2 separate regions of the Homo sapiens genome follow, and region 2 is linked to region 1. Evidence: fine-mapped expression QTL. Tissue or cell type: nucleus accumbens. Region 1 holds a variant in brackets; the other region holds the start of a gene. All regions are shown on one strand. Distances are between the middles of the regions.

The links. PIP is the estimated chance that this variant, and not a neighbour inherited with it, causes the effect.
Region 2: it holds the start of GP6, and the variant in region 1 is fine-mapped to the expression of GP6 in nucleus accumbens (GTEx, PIP 0.99).

Annotation. Positions count from the first base shown.
Region 1 is chr19:54,037,845-54,045,948 of GRCh38, forward strand. VSTM1 (V-set and transmembrane domain containing 1) reads right to left here. Exons shown (of 9, transcript NM_198481.4): 5 at 4,433-4,525; 6 at 4,325-4,352; 7 at 4,072-4,109; 8 at 3,935-3,972; 9 at 2,981-3,236. The coding sequence ends at 3,117. Among named protein-coding and RNA genes, the nearest start is that of VSTM1, 22 kb to the right of the region's middle. The variant A/G (reference allele first, on the strand shown) is at 3,619.
Region 2 is chr19:55,034,229-55,042,326 of GRCh38, forward strand. GP6 (glycoprotein VI platelet) reads right to left here and starts at 4,036. Exons shown (of 8, transcript NM_016363.5): 1 at 3,975-4,036. The coding sequence starts at 4,008. The region is part of intron 2 of GP6-AS1 (GP6 antisense RNA 1); the gene reads left to right. It also overlaps a transcript of RDH13 not described here.

The DNA of each region.
Region 1 (8,104 bases):
TATCAAGGTTGTTCCTTCAGATGCAGCAATCCTGGGAGCTTCTGGTTAGGACAAGATACAAGCAGAGACAGCTTCATGGGTATTGTAAACTCAATGTTTGTGTCCCGACAAAATTCAGCTGTTGGAACCTAACCCCAAGGTGATGGTATTTGTAATACGGGAGCTAAAAAGAAATTATTGAGGCAGACAGTGAGGGTAAGAGAGTCCTCAGTAAGGTTTCCTATTAATAAAGAGCAGCCCCCAAATAATTTCTTTTCTAACAGAAAGCAGCCTGAAACATCAAGCTGCAAGCATAGATAAACAAGCTAAAATCTTGCATCAGCTGTGCCAATAGAAAACGGATGCCTGGGAGCCGGGTATATTCAACATGGAGGTTCCCTCTTCCCTTTTCTTTGTCCCCACATGTGCAGTAAAAAAGCAGACAACATGGCCCCGGCCAGGCAGAGACCCTACCTACGTAATAAAAGATTAGGGTGGGATGGCCAGCTTCTTTGGGGGCTATGCAAACGTCATACCTGGTCCGACTAATCTCTCAGGCCCTATGTAAATCAGACAGCACCTCCTCAAGCTTGTCTATAAAAGCCCCATGCATTTCACCACAAAACCAGGGGTCCCACTCGGGAACCCCTCTCTTCTCTGTGCAAAAGAGAGAACTATTCTCTTTTCTCTTTCTTTTGCTTATTAAGCCTTCACTCTTTTTTTTTTTTTTTTTTTTGAGATGGAGTCTGGCTCTGTCATTCAGGCTGGAGTGCAGTGGCACGATTTCGGCTCACTTCAACCTCCGCCTCCCAGGTGCAAGCAATTCTCCTGCCTCAGCCTCCCAAGTAGCTGGGATGACAGGCACCCACCACTGCGCCCAGCTAATTTTTATATTTTTAGTAGAGATGGGGTTTCACCGTGTTGGTCAGGCTGGTTTCGAACTCCTGATCTCAGGTGATCCGCCCCCCACTCGGTCTCCCAAAGTCCTGAGATTACAGGCGTGAGCCACTGCGCCCGGCCCAGTCTCTTTCACTATGTAAGGACACAGCAAGAAGGTGCCAGCTATGAACCAGGAAAAAAGCCCTCAGCAGACACTGAATCTACCAGTGCTTTGGTCTTGGACTTCCAGCCTCCAGAACCATGAGAAATAACTATGTGTTGTCTGTAAGCTGCCAGGTCTTTGGTATGTTGATAGCAGCCTGGATGGACTAAGACACTCTCTCCTTCCCTCTCATGCCCTGGACCCTCATCAGGGCCAGAAGTGGTTGGGGTGATGGCCCAAGCAGACTTTAAAAAGCACTGGCCTAGCACAAGGGTTGGCACGCTAGAGCCCACAGCTTGTTTTTGCAAATAAAATTTTTTGTTTTTAAAACAACTTTCTGGGCTGGGCACGGTGGCTCACGCCTGTAATCCCAGCACTATGGGAAGCCGAGGCAGGCGGATGACTTGAGGTCAGGAGCTCAAGACCAGCCTGGCCAACATGGTGAAACCCCATCTCTACTAAAAATACAAAAAAATTAGCCTGGTGTGATGGCAGAAGCTTGTAATCCCAGCTACTCAGGAGGCTGAGACAGGAGAATCATTTGAACCTGCGGGGAGAGGTTGCAGCGAGCTGAGATCACGCCACTGCACTCTGGCGCCTGGGCGACAGAGCAAGACTCCATCAAAAAAAAAAAAACTTTCTATAGATACATAATATTTATGCATATTTATGACATACATGTGATAGTTTGATACATGCACAGAATGTATAATACTCAAATTAGGGTATTTAGGATATTCACCACCTCAAACATTTATCTTTTTTTTTATCTTTTCGAGACAGAGTCTCTCTCTGTCGCCCAGGCTGGAGTACAGTGGTGTGATCTTGGCTCACTGCAACCTCTGCCTCCCGAGTTCAAGCAATTCTTCTGCCTCAGCCTCCCAAGTGGCTGGGATTACAGGTGTGCGCCACCACACCCAGCTAATTTTTGTATTTTTAGTGGAGATGGGGTTTCACCTTGTTGGCCAGGCTGGTCTTGAACTCCTGACCTCAGGTGATCCACCCATCTTGGCCTCTCAAAGTGTTGGGATTACAGGAGTGAGCCACTGCACCTGGCTCATTTATCGTTTGTGTTGGGAATGTTTCAAATCTTCTCTTCTAGCTATTTTGAAATATACAATATATTGCTGTTAACTATAGTCACCCTTCTGTGCTATTGAACACTTGAACTTATTCCTTCTATCCAACTGTGTTTGTGCCCATTAACTATCCCACCCCTTCTAGCCTTTGATAACTGACTCTCTCTTTACCTTCATGAGATCTACTTTTTTAGCTCCTACATGAGTGAGAACATGAAGTTGTAAATAAAGTTTTATTCTAACACCGCCACACCTACTTGTTTACATATCAGCGATGGCTGCTTTCATGGTACAACAGCAGAGTGGGGTAGTCTCAGCAGAGATCCTACAGCCCACAAAGCTGGACGTGTTACTCTCTGGTCCTTTTGTTTTCTGCCCTCTGGTCTAGGAGTTTGCAGCTCTGGGCGTTTTTTGTTTTTTTTTTTTTTTTTTTTTGAGATGGAGTCTCACTCCATTGCCCAGGCTGGAATTCAATGGCGCCATCTCAGCTCACTGCAATCTCTGCCTCCTGGGTTCAAGCGATTCTTCTGCCTCAGTCTCCCAAGTAGCGGGGATTACAGGCGCCTGCCACCACGTCCAACTAATTTTTTATTTTTAGTAGAGATGGGATTTCACCATGTTGGTCAGGCTGGTCTTGAACTCTGACCTCAGATGATCCACCCACCTCGGCCTCCCAAAGTGCTGGGATGACAGGCGTGAGCCCGGCCGTTTTCTTTTTTGCTTGTTGTGCTTCCTGGAGATGCTCAGTAATTCTTACATTCTTTCCTGGATAGCTGGTCAATCATTATTTATTATTTCCTTGAATTGTTCTAGGAGGAAATGTGGGGTAGAAAGAGTATGGTGGGGTTCTTGGGCATGAATAATCCATAAATAAGTCAGATTTCTTTTTAAGACGAGAAACTTAATTTTATTGATATGGACGAAGAGCAAGGAAACACAGTATCTGCATCTCCAGATTTCCGATAACCTTGGCCAGCACGATCCCCCCTCCTTTAGTGGCCAGGGCTGTCTTCTTGCTACACTTTCAGTGCCGCATATTCATGAGATCCTGGGGGCTCCTGGGTGGTGTCTGAAGCTGCCTCAGACAGGGCGCTGGTGCTTAGCTCAGCATAGGTCACTCCTTGGGGGTCTGCCGTCTTTGGAGAAAATAGATGAATATTAGAACTGAGTGTTCAATATGGCAGCCACTAGCCACACATGGCTATTGACATTTAAGTTAATTACAATTAAATTTAATTTAAAACCCAGGTCCTCGGTCACACCAGATGCATTTCTTTTTCTTTTCTGTTTTTATAACCCTTTATGCCTGTGACATCAATGGATCTGCGTAAGCCTTTTTTCATTTTTTTTAAATTTTTATTTATTTATTTATTTTGGGACAGAGTCTGGCTCTGTCGCCCAGGCTGGAGTGCGGTGGCGTGATCTCGGCTCACTGCAACCTCCGCCTCCCGGGTTCAAGCCATTCTCCTGGCTCAGCCTCCTGAGTAGCTGGGATTACAGGCGCCCACTACCACGCCC[A/G]GCTAATTTTTTGTATCTTTAGTAGAGATGGGGTTTCACCATGTTAACCAGGATGGTCTCGATCTCCTGACCTCATGATCCGCCCGCCTCGGCCTCCCAAAGTGCTGGGATTACAGGCGTGAGCCACCGCGCCCGGCCCATGCATAAGCCTTTTAAATGGAGATTTTGGTTCCCATTAGGGGAGTTTCGTGACTTGTCTAAGACCACATGCGTGATAAACAGTATACATTTCTGTATGGGCTTAACCAGGAGGCACACACGACCAGCCCATTGTGGTGAGGGAGCTCTTGTGGGACTCCTAAGCGGGAGGACTCACCGAGAGAGATACCCTTTCCATATTGGATAAATCTGCCTCTGAGTGAGAAAGGAAAAAAAAAAATCAGTTCTCAGCTGCAGAAGTCAGAACTTAGTCTTTCTATCCGGTGATTCCCTTAAACTTCCCCTGTCCCTTACCGGCAGCCTCCTGCTCCGGAAGTTTGGAATGGCTGGTTCTGAAAGAGAGAGACACACGTGAAAGGATGGGATGTGAAGATTTCGGGGAGAGGGTGAGGGCAATGGAGGGGAGAGGAAGGGAGAAGAAGGGAGAGGAGGAAGGTCACAGAATGGGCTGGGGTGGGGGCTCAGGGTGCCAATCCCGGATGTGCCAATGGGTTCCCTTGAGAATGACATGGGAATAAGTGGAGCATGAGCTATGCCAAGCATCTACCTCTTGGTGGATTCCTCAGATGATGAACCTACAAAAAATGCAGGAGGAATTTACCTACCGAGAAAATCCTTCACTCCCCCTCTCTCCCTTTGCGTTCTCTGAGCTCACTGTGCTGGCTGCATCTGTAGATGATGAAGACTGAGAGGAAGAGGAGAAGGATGGAGATGCAGCTGAAGATGGCGACAAAGATGGTTCTGGTGTCTGGAGGGGGAAGAGCAGGTCAGGGAATCAGCCTGGCTCCTGAAATCCACTGATAGGGGCGAGCCGAAAAGCTAAGAGAAGCCAGACAGATGGCCTGGCTTCCAAGCCTGGATCTCCCACCTCGGAGCTGGAACTTCCTATTGCTTTGGGGAATTTCCTTAATCTTCTCCAAGCTTCTGTTTCCCCATCTGTAAAGTGAGGATAGCAGCAGTAGCTACTTTATTGGATGGTGGGTCAGTACCTATAGAAAGGGCTGGAACAGTGCTTGGCGCATAGGAAATTCCAAAAATTCCCAGGGAATGTTTGGTGCATAGCAATGATATTGATCATTTATTGTGAGCCAGCTCTGTTCCAGGTGCTCCATATATATATATACGTGTGTGTGTGTGTATATATATATATAAATGTATATATATGTGTGTGTATATATAAATGTGTATATATATATATATATATATATATATATATACATATATATATATATATACACACTTTTTTTTTTTTGAGATGGAGTCGTGTTCTGTCACCCAGGCTGGAGTGTGATCCTGGCTCACTGCAACCTCCACCTCCCTGGTTCAAACAATTCTCCTGACTCAGCCTCCTGAGTAGTTGGGATTACAGGCGTGAGCCACCACATCTGTCTGTGTAATCACTGTCTGAAATCCACTGATGGGGTGAGTAGAAAAGCTAAGAGAAGCCAGACAGATGGCCTGGCTTCCAAGCCTGGATCTCCCACCTTGGAGCTGGAACTTCCTTGGAGCTGGACATTTCGACCAATAGACTTTGAGTAAAGCAGATGACCCACTGTCATAGGGGTGGGCCTCATCCAATCAGTTGAAGACTTTAAGACTTTAAGAGAAAAGACTGAGGTCCCCCAAGGTGGAAGGAATTCTGCCTCCAGACTCAAGCTGCAATATCAAGTCTCCCCTGGATCCCCTGCCTGCCTGCCCTGCAGATTTCAGACTTGCCAGCTCCCCACAATCACGTGAACCAATCCATTAAAATCAATCTCTCTCTCCATATATGTATATACATGTATATGTTCTCTTTTTTTTTTTTGAGACAAAGTCTCACTCTTATCGTCCAGGCTGGAGTGCAATAGTGCAATCTTGGCTCACTGCAAGCTCCGCCTCCCGGGTTCAAGCAATTCTCCTGCCTTAGCCTCCTGAGTAGCTGGGATTACAGGTGCCCACCATCACGCCCGGCTAATTTTTGTATTTTTAGTAGAGACGGGGTTTCGCCATGTTGGCCACGCTGGTCTTGAACTACTGACCTCAGGCAATCTGCCTGCCTCGGCCTCCCAAAGTGCTGGGATTACAGGCGTGAGCCACCACACCCAGCTTATATCTATATGTTCTATTGGTTCTGTTTTTCTGGAAAACCCTGGCTAACACAGACATGATCTCAGCTCTTAACTTCAAACATATTTCCTTTTTCTTTTTTTAAAGGAGAGAGAGAGATGTGAAAGGACGGGATGTGAAGATTATGGGGAGAGGGTGAGGGCAATGGAGGGGAGAGGAGGGGAGAGGAGGGAGGTCACAGATGGGAGCTCAGGATGCCAATCCCAGATGTGCCAATGGGTTCCCATTGTTGCCCAGGCTAGAGTGCAGTGGTGTGATCATACTCGAATTCCTGGGCTCAAGTGGTCCTCCTCACTCGGCCTCCAGGGTAGCTGGGAGTACAGACCACCACGCCCAGCCAACTTCAAACACACTTCAATGAGCTCGTTGATGCCAGGTAATGAACAGCAGTGACACGGGCATGGAAGGCGTTTAGAGTGGGGAGGGGTGGGGCTCTCTGAAGGAGACATGATTCCCCAAGACACAGAACAAGGGATCAGCTGGGAGAATTCAGGGAGGATTCCTAATAAGAACAGGGTTAGAGCAGGGTAGAAAAGAATGACCAGTGGCCGGGCACGGTGGCTCACGCCTGTAATCCTGGCACTTTGGGAGAGTGAAGTAGGTGGATCACTTGAGGTCTGGAGTTCGAGACCAGCCTGGCCAACATGGTGAAACCCTGTCTCTACTGAAAATATAAAAAATAAGCTGGGCATGGTGGCGCACGCCTGTAGTCCCAGCTACTCAGGAGGCTGAGAGAAGAGAATTGCTTGAACCTGGGAGGCGGAGGTTGCAGTGAGCCGAGATCGCATCACTGCATCATACACTCAACTGACCAAGACTCCAACTCAAAAAAGCATCCCTCTCAGGAGATAAAATTTCTACCAATTAAAAAACAAAAACAAAACAAAACAAAAAAAACTAGTTCTTGAGCAATATTGCCATGCAAGTCTACATCATAGCGTTTTAAAGTCTTAACAACAACCCTGCAAGGTAGTACAATTATTTCCCTCCCACTGGTGAAGGGCATGCATTCCCGTGTGACTCCTGGGATTACAGCAAGGGTTGTGTCCAAAGCTCACAGCGTTGAGGAAGAGAGAGCAACCTGTTACTAAAGCTAGGCGACAGAGTCCATGCAGTTCCCCCCCGTTTTTTGTTTTTCTTGGCACTTTAGATTCAAGAAACACAAGTCGTGAGACTTTAAGGAGTAAGTAGCAGAAACGTGATTAAGGAAAAAAGTTGAGCAACTATAGAAGTGAGGCCCCAGAAAGGGGCTTCACCAAGACCCCCGCTATCTTTGTTAGTGTGCTTTGAGTCTGAGAATTTTTCCTAGGTGTGCAATGATCTGTGGTCACATTACAGAGCCAAGTCTGAGATGCTTCACACGCCTGGTCCTCTGCACCAACAGAGGGTCTCCCATCCAGACGCTTCCCCTACTTGGTTCGCTATGTTTGCATTGGCATTTCTACATATCTATATATAGAGAATTACCTATCTAATTTATCTATCTCGCTAATCTATCTACCATCTGTCTAGGTATCTATTATCTATCTACCTATCTATCTTTATCTGTCTCTGTACCTACTTACCTATCATCTATCCAATCTATCCGTCCTATCTAATTATGATTTATCTATCTACCTACTTGCCTATCACCTATCCAATCTATCTATCCTATCATATGTAATTAACTATCTGTCTGTCTAATTTTTCTATCTTGTTAATCTATCACTTATCTAGGCATCTATGTATCTATCTTTATCTGTCTATCCACCTGCTTACCTGCTGTCTGTCTAATCTATCCATCCTATCATATCTAATTATCACTTATCTATCTACCGACTTACCTATCATCTAGTTACCAAATCTATCATCTATCTAATGTATCTATCAATCATAACCAGTTATCTATCATCTATCATCTATCATCTGTATGTATCTGTCTATTCACCTACTATTATCTATTTAATCTATTCTATCTAGTTATCTATCTATCTATCCACCTACTTATCTAATTTTTCTATCTTGCAACTCTATCACCTATCTAGGTATCTATGTATCTATCTGTGTATCTGTATATCTATCTATCTATCTAGCTAGCTTTATCTAGCTACCTAGTTACCTATCATCTATCTATCTAATCTATCATCTATCTAATGTATCTATCAATCATATCTAATTATCTGTCTATCTAATCATCTATCTTATCTATTATATCTAGTTATCTATCATCTAGCTAGCT
Region 2 (8,098 bases), 1.0 Mb after region 1:
TTGAGCCCAGGAGGTCAAGTCTGCTGTGAGGTAAGATTGCACCACTGGCCGGGCACGGTGGCTCATGCCTATAATCCCAGCACTTTGGGAGGCCAGGGTGGGCGGATCACAAGGTCAGGAGTTCAAGACCAGCCTGGTCAACATGGTGAAACACCATCTCTACTAAAAATACCAGAAATTAGCTGGGCATGGTGGCACGTGCCTGTAATCCTAGCTACTGGGGAGGCTGAGTCAGGAGAATCACTTGAACCCGGGAGGCGGAGGTTGCAGTGAGCCAAGATCACGCCACTACACTCCAGCCTGGGCAACAGAGCAAGACTCCATCTCGAGGAAAAAAAAAAATGATATTGCCCCATTGCACTCCAGACTGACAACAGAGCAAGACCCTGTCTCAGAAAACGAAGAGGAGGAGGAAAAAAAAAGTACTAATTATCTGAAATTCCAATTTAACCAGGCATCCAGTGTTTTATCTGGTAACCCTCATTCTTACACACACACACACACACACACACACACAAAGGCGGGATAGTTGTCATTCCCACTGTAAACATAAGGAAACTGGGCAGAGGCCAAGCAACCTTGTGTAGCTCACATAGCAAGAAGTGGGTGAACCCAGCTCATGTCTTGACTCTGAGCTCAGAGAGTGACAACTTGTCACCAGCGCCCCCATAGCCACCACCCTTTGTCCACCCCAGGCTCCCTCTGCACCCCAACGCAAGCTCCGGCCGCTTCTCTGTCCCCCTCCTCCTGCCGCATCACAGCCCACCTCAGCCTCTTTGTAGGTTTCCATGCGACGCTGTACCATGGCTGGGAGTCTTCCAGGCGCCGTGCTGAGCGCCTTCTGTGCATGGACTCCAAGTCGCCATAATCGTACGGGTTACCCACCATTATCAGTCCCCTCTTATACATCAGGCTAGTGAGACAGTATCTTATCCACAGTCCTACAGCTGGCAGGAGTAGATTCAAACCCTAGCAGCACCAATTAGTGGTAAAGAGTGTGGACTTGGGAACTTACAGGAGTAGAGAGCACAGTGGTGGTTACCGGGGCGGTGGGGTAAGGTTTGGGGAGATGTTGGTCAGAGGAGGACAGTTTCAGTTGGACAAGAGGAGTATGTCTTGGAGATCTACTGCACATCATGGTGACTGTAGTTAATAACAACATATTGTACACTTGCATATCACCGATAGTAGATTTTAAATGTTCTCACCGGCCGGGCGCGCTGGCTCACACCTGTAATCCCATTTTGGGAGGCCAAGGTGGGCGGATCACCTGAAGTCAGGAGTTCGAGAGCAGCCTGACCAACATGGTGAAACCCTGTCTCTACTAAAAATACAAAAATTAGCGGGGCGTAGTGGCAGGAGCCTGTAATCCCAGCTACTTGGGAGGCTGAGGCAGGAGAATCGCTTGAACCTGGGAGGTGGAGGTTGCAGTGAGCCAACGTCATGCCACTGCGCTCCAGTCTGGGCAACAGAGTGAGACTCCATGTCAAAAAATAAAAATAAATAAAAATAAATGAGCGTGGAATACTACTCAGCCATTAAAAGGAGTGAAATAATGTCTTTTGGCCAGGCACAGTGGCTCACATCTGTAATGCCAGCACTCTGGGAGGCCGAGGTGGGTGGATCACGAGGTCAAGAGATCAAGACCATCCTGCCCAACATGGTGAAACCCCATCTCTACTAAAAATACAAAAATTAGCCGGGCATGGTGGCGGGTGCCTGTAGTCCCAGCTACTCGGGAGGCTGAGGCAGGAGAATCACTTAAACCCGGGAGGTGGAGTTTGCAGTAAGCCGAGATCACACCACTGCACTCCAGCCTTGGTGAGAGAGCGAGATTCCGTCTTTAAAAAAAAAAAAAAAAAGTCTTTTGCAGCAACTTGGATGGAGCTGGAAGGCATTATTCTAAGTAAAGTAATACAGGAGTGGAAAACAAAAATCTGTATATTCTCACTTATAAGTGAGAGCTAAGCTGTGGGTATGCAAAGGCATGCAGAGTGATGTAATGGACTTCAGAGACTCAGAAGGGAAGGGCAGAAGTGGGGCAGGGATGAAAAACTACACATTAGGTACAAGGTACACTAGTCAGGTGACAGGTGCACTAAAATCTCAGAATTCACCAGAATATAATTCATCCATGTAACCAAGAACCACTTGTATCCCAAAAGCTACTGAAGCAACAAGCCAGATGCAGTAACCTGTACAGGCCACACCTGTAACCCCAACACTTTGGGAGGCCGAGGTGGGTGGATCGCTTGAGCCCAGGAGTTCAAGACCAGCCTGGGCAACATAGCGGACCCCCGTAACTAAAAAAATTACAAAAACAAGCCAGGCATGATGGTGTACAACTGTAGTTCCAGATACTCAGGAGGCTGATGGGGAGGCACTGGTTGAGCCTGGGAGGTTGAGGCTGCAGTGAGCCATGATCATGCCACTGCCCTCCTGCCTGGGTGACAGAAGTGAGGCCCTATCTCAAATAAAATTAAATAAATAAAAGTTAAAACAGGCTGGGTGCGGTGGCTCACGCCTGTAATCCCAGCACTTTGGGAGGCCGAGGCGGGTGGAACCTGAAGTAAGGAGCTTGAGACCAGCCTGGCCAACATGGTGAAACCCCGCCCCTACTAAAAATACAATAATTAGCCAGACCTGGTGGCAGATGCCTGTAATCCCAACTATTCGGGAGGCTGAGGCAGGAGAATCACTTGGACCCGGGAGGCAGAGTTTGCAGTGAGCTGAGATCATGCCATTGCATTCCAGCCTGAGCGACCGACTGAGCGAGACTCCATCTCAAAAAACAAACAAAAAGAAAAAAAGAATACATCCATGGATGGATAATGAATGAGAGGTTGTTTATATTCACAGTTAACCCTCTCATCTCCAGTAATGCAACCATCTTCTTCCTGCTTAGCCTTTTGGAGATGCTGTCCCTTTAGTGGTCAAATTCTGAAGAAATCAGGAAATAATGCATTCGACATGCCCAGCACAAGTGAAGATCAGGCAGCAGAAATGCATTCGACCTGCCACCCATCCATCAGGAGACTATTTACTCCACTACTGTAGGGGATACTGACAAATTAAATCCATACCTAGTCCAGATATCAATTCCACAATTTTTTTTTTTTTTTTTTTGAGACGGAGTTTCGCTCTTGTTGCCCAGGCCAGAGTGCAATGGTGTGATCTTGGCTCACCGCAACCTCCACCTCCCAGGTTCAAGCGATTCTCCTGCCTTAGCCTCCAGAGTAGCTGGGATTACAGGCATGTGCCACCACACCCGGCTAATTTTGTATTTTTAGTAGAGATGGGGTTTCTCCATGTTGGTCAGGCTGGTCTCAAACTCCCGACCTCAGATGGCCCACCCGCCTCGGCCTCCCAAAGTGTGTAAGCCATGGCACTCAGCCTTTTTTTTTTTTTTTTTTTTTTTTTTTGAGATGGAGGCTCTCTCTGTTGCCCAGGCTGGAGTGCAATGCCTGACCTCAGCTCACTGCAACTTCTGCCTCCCAGTTTCAAGCAATTCTCCCACCTCAGCCTCCCACGTAGCTGGGATTACAAGCACCCGCCATCACGCCCGGCTAATTTTTGTAGAGATGGGGTTTCACCATGTTGACCAGGCTGGTCTTGAACTCCTGACCTCAGGTGATCCACCCACCTCGGCCTCCCAAGGTTGAGATTACAGGCGTGAGCCACTGTGCCTGGCCCACATTTTTTAAAAAAGGGGCAACTGCAGTGTAGTAGAACAAAGTTGTGACCAATGCTAGGATACTCTGTTCATTTCCTGACCCAGCCATGAATACACTGGAATAACTCATGCAAAATGCCAGCTCGCTGGCCCCCCGTTTCCCCACCCAACAAATGAAGGGGCTCTTACAGGTTCCTTTTTGTCCTGAAATTCATCACCAATGCAAATTTCTTAAAAATCCTTTGTCTGGCAGTCCATGCCTGTCCTTCAGCATTTCCCAGATCTGACCCTCAGGACTCACCAAGACAGAAGAGGGCGGTCGGGGATGGAGACATGGTTCCTCAGCCCTGTCCTGAGCTCTGTGGCCAGGGAGGGAAGTGGTGGGAGCCTGGGGCACAGGCTCAGGATGTGATGAGGATGAAGAATGCTCTCCTCCCTTCCTCCACCAGCCCCGGCCTTTCCTAATTGAGACTCATCGAGCCGTAGCCGGCTCCTCAGTACAGTGACTTGCACACAAGCTCCAAGGAGCCGCGCTTATCTCCTCTGGCCAGCCTGGCGTTGCACCGTTTGTCCGCCTGCTGGGGCCTGGTCTGTGTTCCCGTGCTCCCATAAACTCCCTGATGTCACTAGGAAAATACGCATCAAAACCACAGTGAGATATGACTTCACACCTTCTGGAATGGCTGTATTTTTTTTTTTTCTTTTGAGACAAAGTCTCGTTCTTTTTGCCCAGGTTGGAGTGCAGTGGCGCCATCTCGGCCCACTACAACCTCCACCTCCCAGGTTCAAGCGATTCTCCTGCCTCAGCCTCCCAAGTGGCTGGGATTATAGGTATGTACCACACCAGGCTAATTTTTGTATTTTTAGTAGAGATGGGGTTTCACTGTGTTGGCCAGGCTGGTCTTGAACTCCTGACCTCAGTTGATCCACCTGCCTCGGTCTCCCAAAGTGCTGGGATTACAGGCATGAGCCACTGCACCCGACCGGCTATAATTTTTTTTAATGGAAAACAGCAGATATTGGTGAGTATGCAGAGAAATTGAACTGCGCGTGCATTGCTGGCAGGGACGTAACATGGCGCCCCTGCTGTGGAAAACAGTTCCAGCAGCTCCTCCAGAAGTTAAACGTGGGATTGCCATAAAATCCAGCAATTCCACTTCGGGGTACACACCTAAAAGAACTGAAAACAGGGTCTCTAACATATTTGTACACAGTGTTCATAGCAGCTTTATTCACAATAGCCAAAAGGTGAAACCACCCACATGTCCATCAACAACAATGGATAAACAACATGTGGTATATACACACAAGGTAATATCAACCAGCCTTAACTAAAAGAATAAAAATCAGCCAGGCACAGTGGCTCACGCCTGTAATCCCAGCACTTTGGGAGGCCGAGGCGGGCGGATCACCTGAGGTCAGGAGTCCGAGACCAGCCTGGTTAACATGGTGAAACCCCATCTCTACTAAAAATACAAAAATTAGCTGGGCGTTAAATTAGCCGGGCATGGTGGCAGGTGCCTGTAATCCCAGCTACTTGGGAGACGGAGGCATGAGAATCGCTTGAACCTGGGAGGCAGAGATTGCGGTAAGCCGAGATCGCACCACTGCACTCCAGCCTGGGCGGCAGAGTGAGACTGTCTCAAAAATAAAAATAAGGCCGGGCGTGGTGGCCCATGCCTGTAATCCTAGTACTTTAGGAGGCTGAGGCAGGCAGATTGCCTGAGCTCAGCAGTTCAAGACCAGCCTGGGCAACACAGTAAAACCCCCAAAAAATACAAAAAAAAAATAGCCGGGCATGGCGGCAGGCACCTGTAGTCCCAGCTACTCCGGAGGCTGAGACAGGAGAATGGCTTGAACCCGGGACGCGGAAGTTGCGGTGAGCCGAGATCGCGCCATTGCACTCCAGCCTGGGTGACAGAGCGAGATTCTGTCTCCAAAAAATAAAAAATATTATAAAAGAATAAATTCAGATACATGCTACAACGTGATGGACCTTGAAGACATTATGCTAAAGGAAATATTCCGGACTTGACAGATAAATACTGCATTGTGCCGCTTATCTGAGGTATCGAGAGGAGTCAAATTCATAGAGACAGGGATTAGAATGGTGGTTGCCAAGGCCTGGGAAAAGTGGGGAGTTACTATTTAATAGGGAGCGCTTAGGTTGAAGATGATGACAAAGTCTGGGGGATCCATAGTGGTGATGGTTACACAACACTGTAAATGTATTTATATTTAATGCCATTGACTGTTTTTTGTTTTTTGGTTTTTTGAGACGGAGTCTCACTCTGTCGCCGAGGCTGGAGTGCAGTGGCGCGATCTTGGCTCACCGCAACCTCCGCCTCCCAGGTTCAAGCGATTCTCCTGCCTCAGCCTCCTGAGTAGCTGGGACTACAGGTGCGTGCCACCATGCCTAGTTGATTTTTTGTATTTTTAGTAGAGACGGGGTTTCACCGTGTTAGCCAGGATGGTCTCGATCTCCTGACCTTGTGATTTGGCCTCCCAAAGTGCTGGGAATACAGGCATGAGCCACCGCGCCCGGCCAGTGCCGTTGACTTGTATGTGCACTTACAGGTGGTTAAAATGAGAACTATCAGGGTGTTGATATCTAAAAACCTCCCTGCCATCATCTTCCCTACATCTCTCATTCAGTGACCATGGTTGAATGCCTGCCACCTTTCAAATATTATGTCAGGCACTCAGTATTGGCAGTTTTATCCATTATAAATGCTTTAAGCTGCATAGAATTTTAAACGTGTTAATAAAAGTAGTTATAAATCTTTAATACATAAGCTGGCTTTAAAATTATTGGTAAAATAAGATTAGAAATGTCTTAAGAATTGTTGGCGTTTTTGTTTGCACTTATTGAACGAGTGGTTTCATGCTTATCCCTGCAGAATACTATGAGATTTGTCATAAGGGTTATAAAACTATAAACCCGGCTGGGCGTGGTGGCTCACGCCTGTAATCCCAACACTCTGGGAGGCCGAGGCAGGCAGATCACCTGAGGTCGGGAGTTTGAGACCAGCCTGACCAACATGGAGAAACGCCATCTCTACTAAAAATACAAAATTAGCTGGGTGTGGTGGCGCATGCCTGTAATCCCAGATACTCAGGAGGCTGAGGCAGGAGAATCGCTTGAACCCGGGAGGCAGAAGTTGCAGTGAGCCGAGATTGCGCCACTGCACTCCAGCCTGGGCAACAAGAGTGAAACTCCATCTAAAATAAATAAAAATAAAACATTTGTTTTTTGTAGAGTTGGGGTTTCACTATGTTGCCCAGGCTGGTCTTGAACTCCTCCTGGGCTCAAGCAATCCACCGACCTCAGCCTCCCAAAGTGCTGGGATTACAAGTGTGAGCCACTGTGCCTGGCCCTATTGGGTCCTTTTAAAAGATACATAAAAAATCAAATGCAACAGTGAAGTCAATCACCCGATGGCAGAAATTGGGGTGCTCCTGGCATGTGGTCGGTCGAAGCCAAGGACACTGCTCAGCATTCTGCAGTGCACAGGACGGCCCCGCCCAGGCGGAGAATGATCCGGTGACACATATAGGTGGGAAGGATGCACGAATGATGGCGTTTAGGAAGAATATTATCACTTCTTTCCCGTAAGAGCAACTTAGAGCAAGAAAATGGTATTATTCTTAGGGCCTTCTCTCTTATGGAGGCTCCAAGCCAGGGTTGCCATGGCAGAAGATGCTGGGCTTGCTTTTTCCTTGAGAGAACTGTACTCAAGATGATGTAACTGTCACCCCGGGTGCCACTTGGGTGCTTTGGAGAAGCGCTCAGACGCGACACGCCGTGACGACTCCGCGGCAGGCAGCCGGACCTGTCCTCTGGCGTGCGGTTCACGGGCTGTGTTTATCCCCCTGGTTCCTTCACAGCCACCTTGGGAAATACGTTGCCTCTGAATCACGCCAGGCAGGCTCTCACTGTGTGTGCTGCGGGGCTGGAAATCAGGGTGACACTCCGCTACCGAACAGCCTGACTAGGAAGCCAGAAAGACGCTGCCGGCTTTAGTTTGTCCTTTGACTTTCCTTGATATGAATGAAGATAGAGCACTTCCACACTGCACAACAGGAAAAGCCCAGAACGCTTCCTGGAGATAGCGAGGGGGTGATGCAGCGGACAGCTATGGCTGATGACCCCCTCACCTCTGACTCCCCCTCCCTCCCTGCTTTCTGAACGCACATCCATCACCAACCATAGGTTCCTGTTTGGGGTTTGCTGGCTGGAAAAAAAAAAAAAAAAAAAAGGAAAGCTGGCTTTCTAGTAAAAACCACTTCCTTTGCTCATTTATCAAACTCAAACGCTAGGAGGGCCACCTAACATCCTCCGTCCCACGCAATGGGGTGTTTCTGGAGCACTCCGGTTTATCAGGGACCCTGTCAGTTGCCATCGCACATGTATATGGGGCCAGC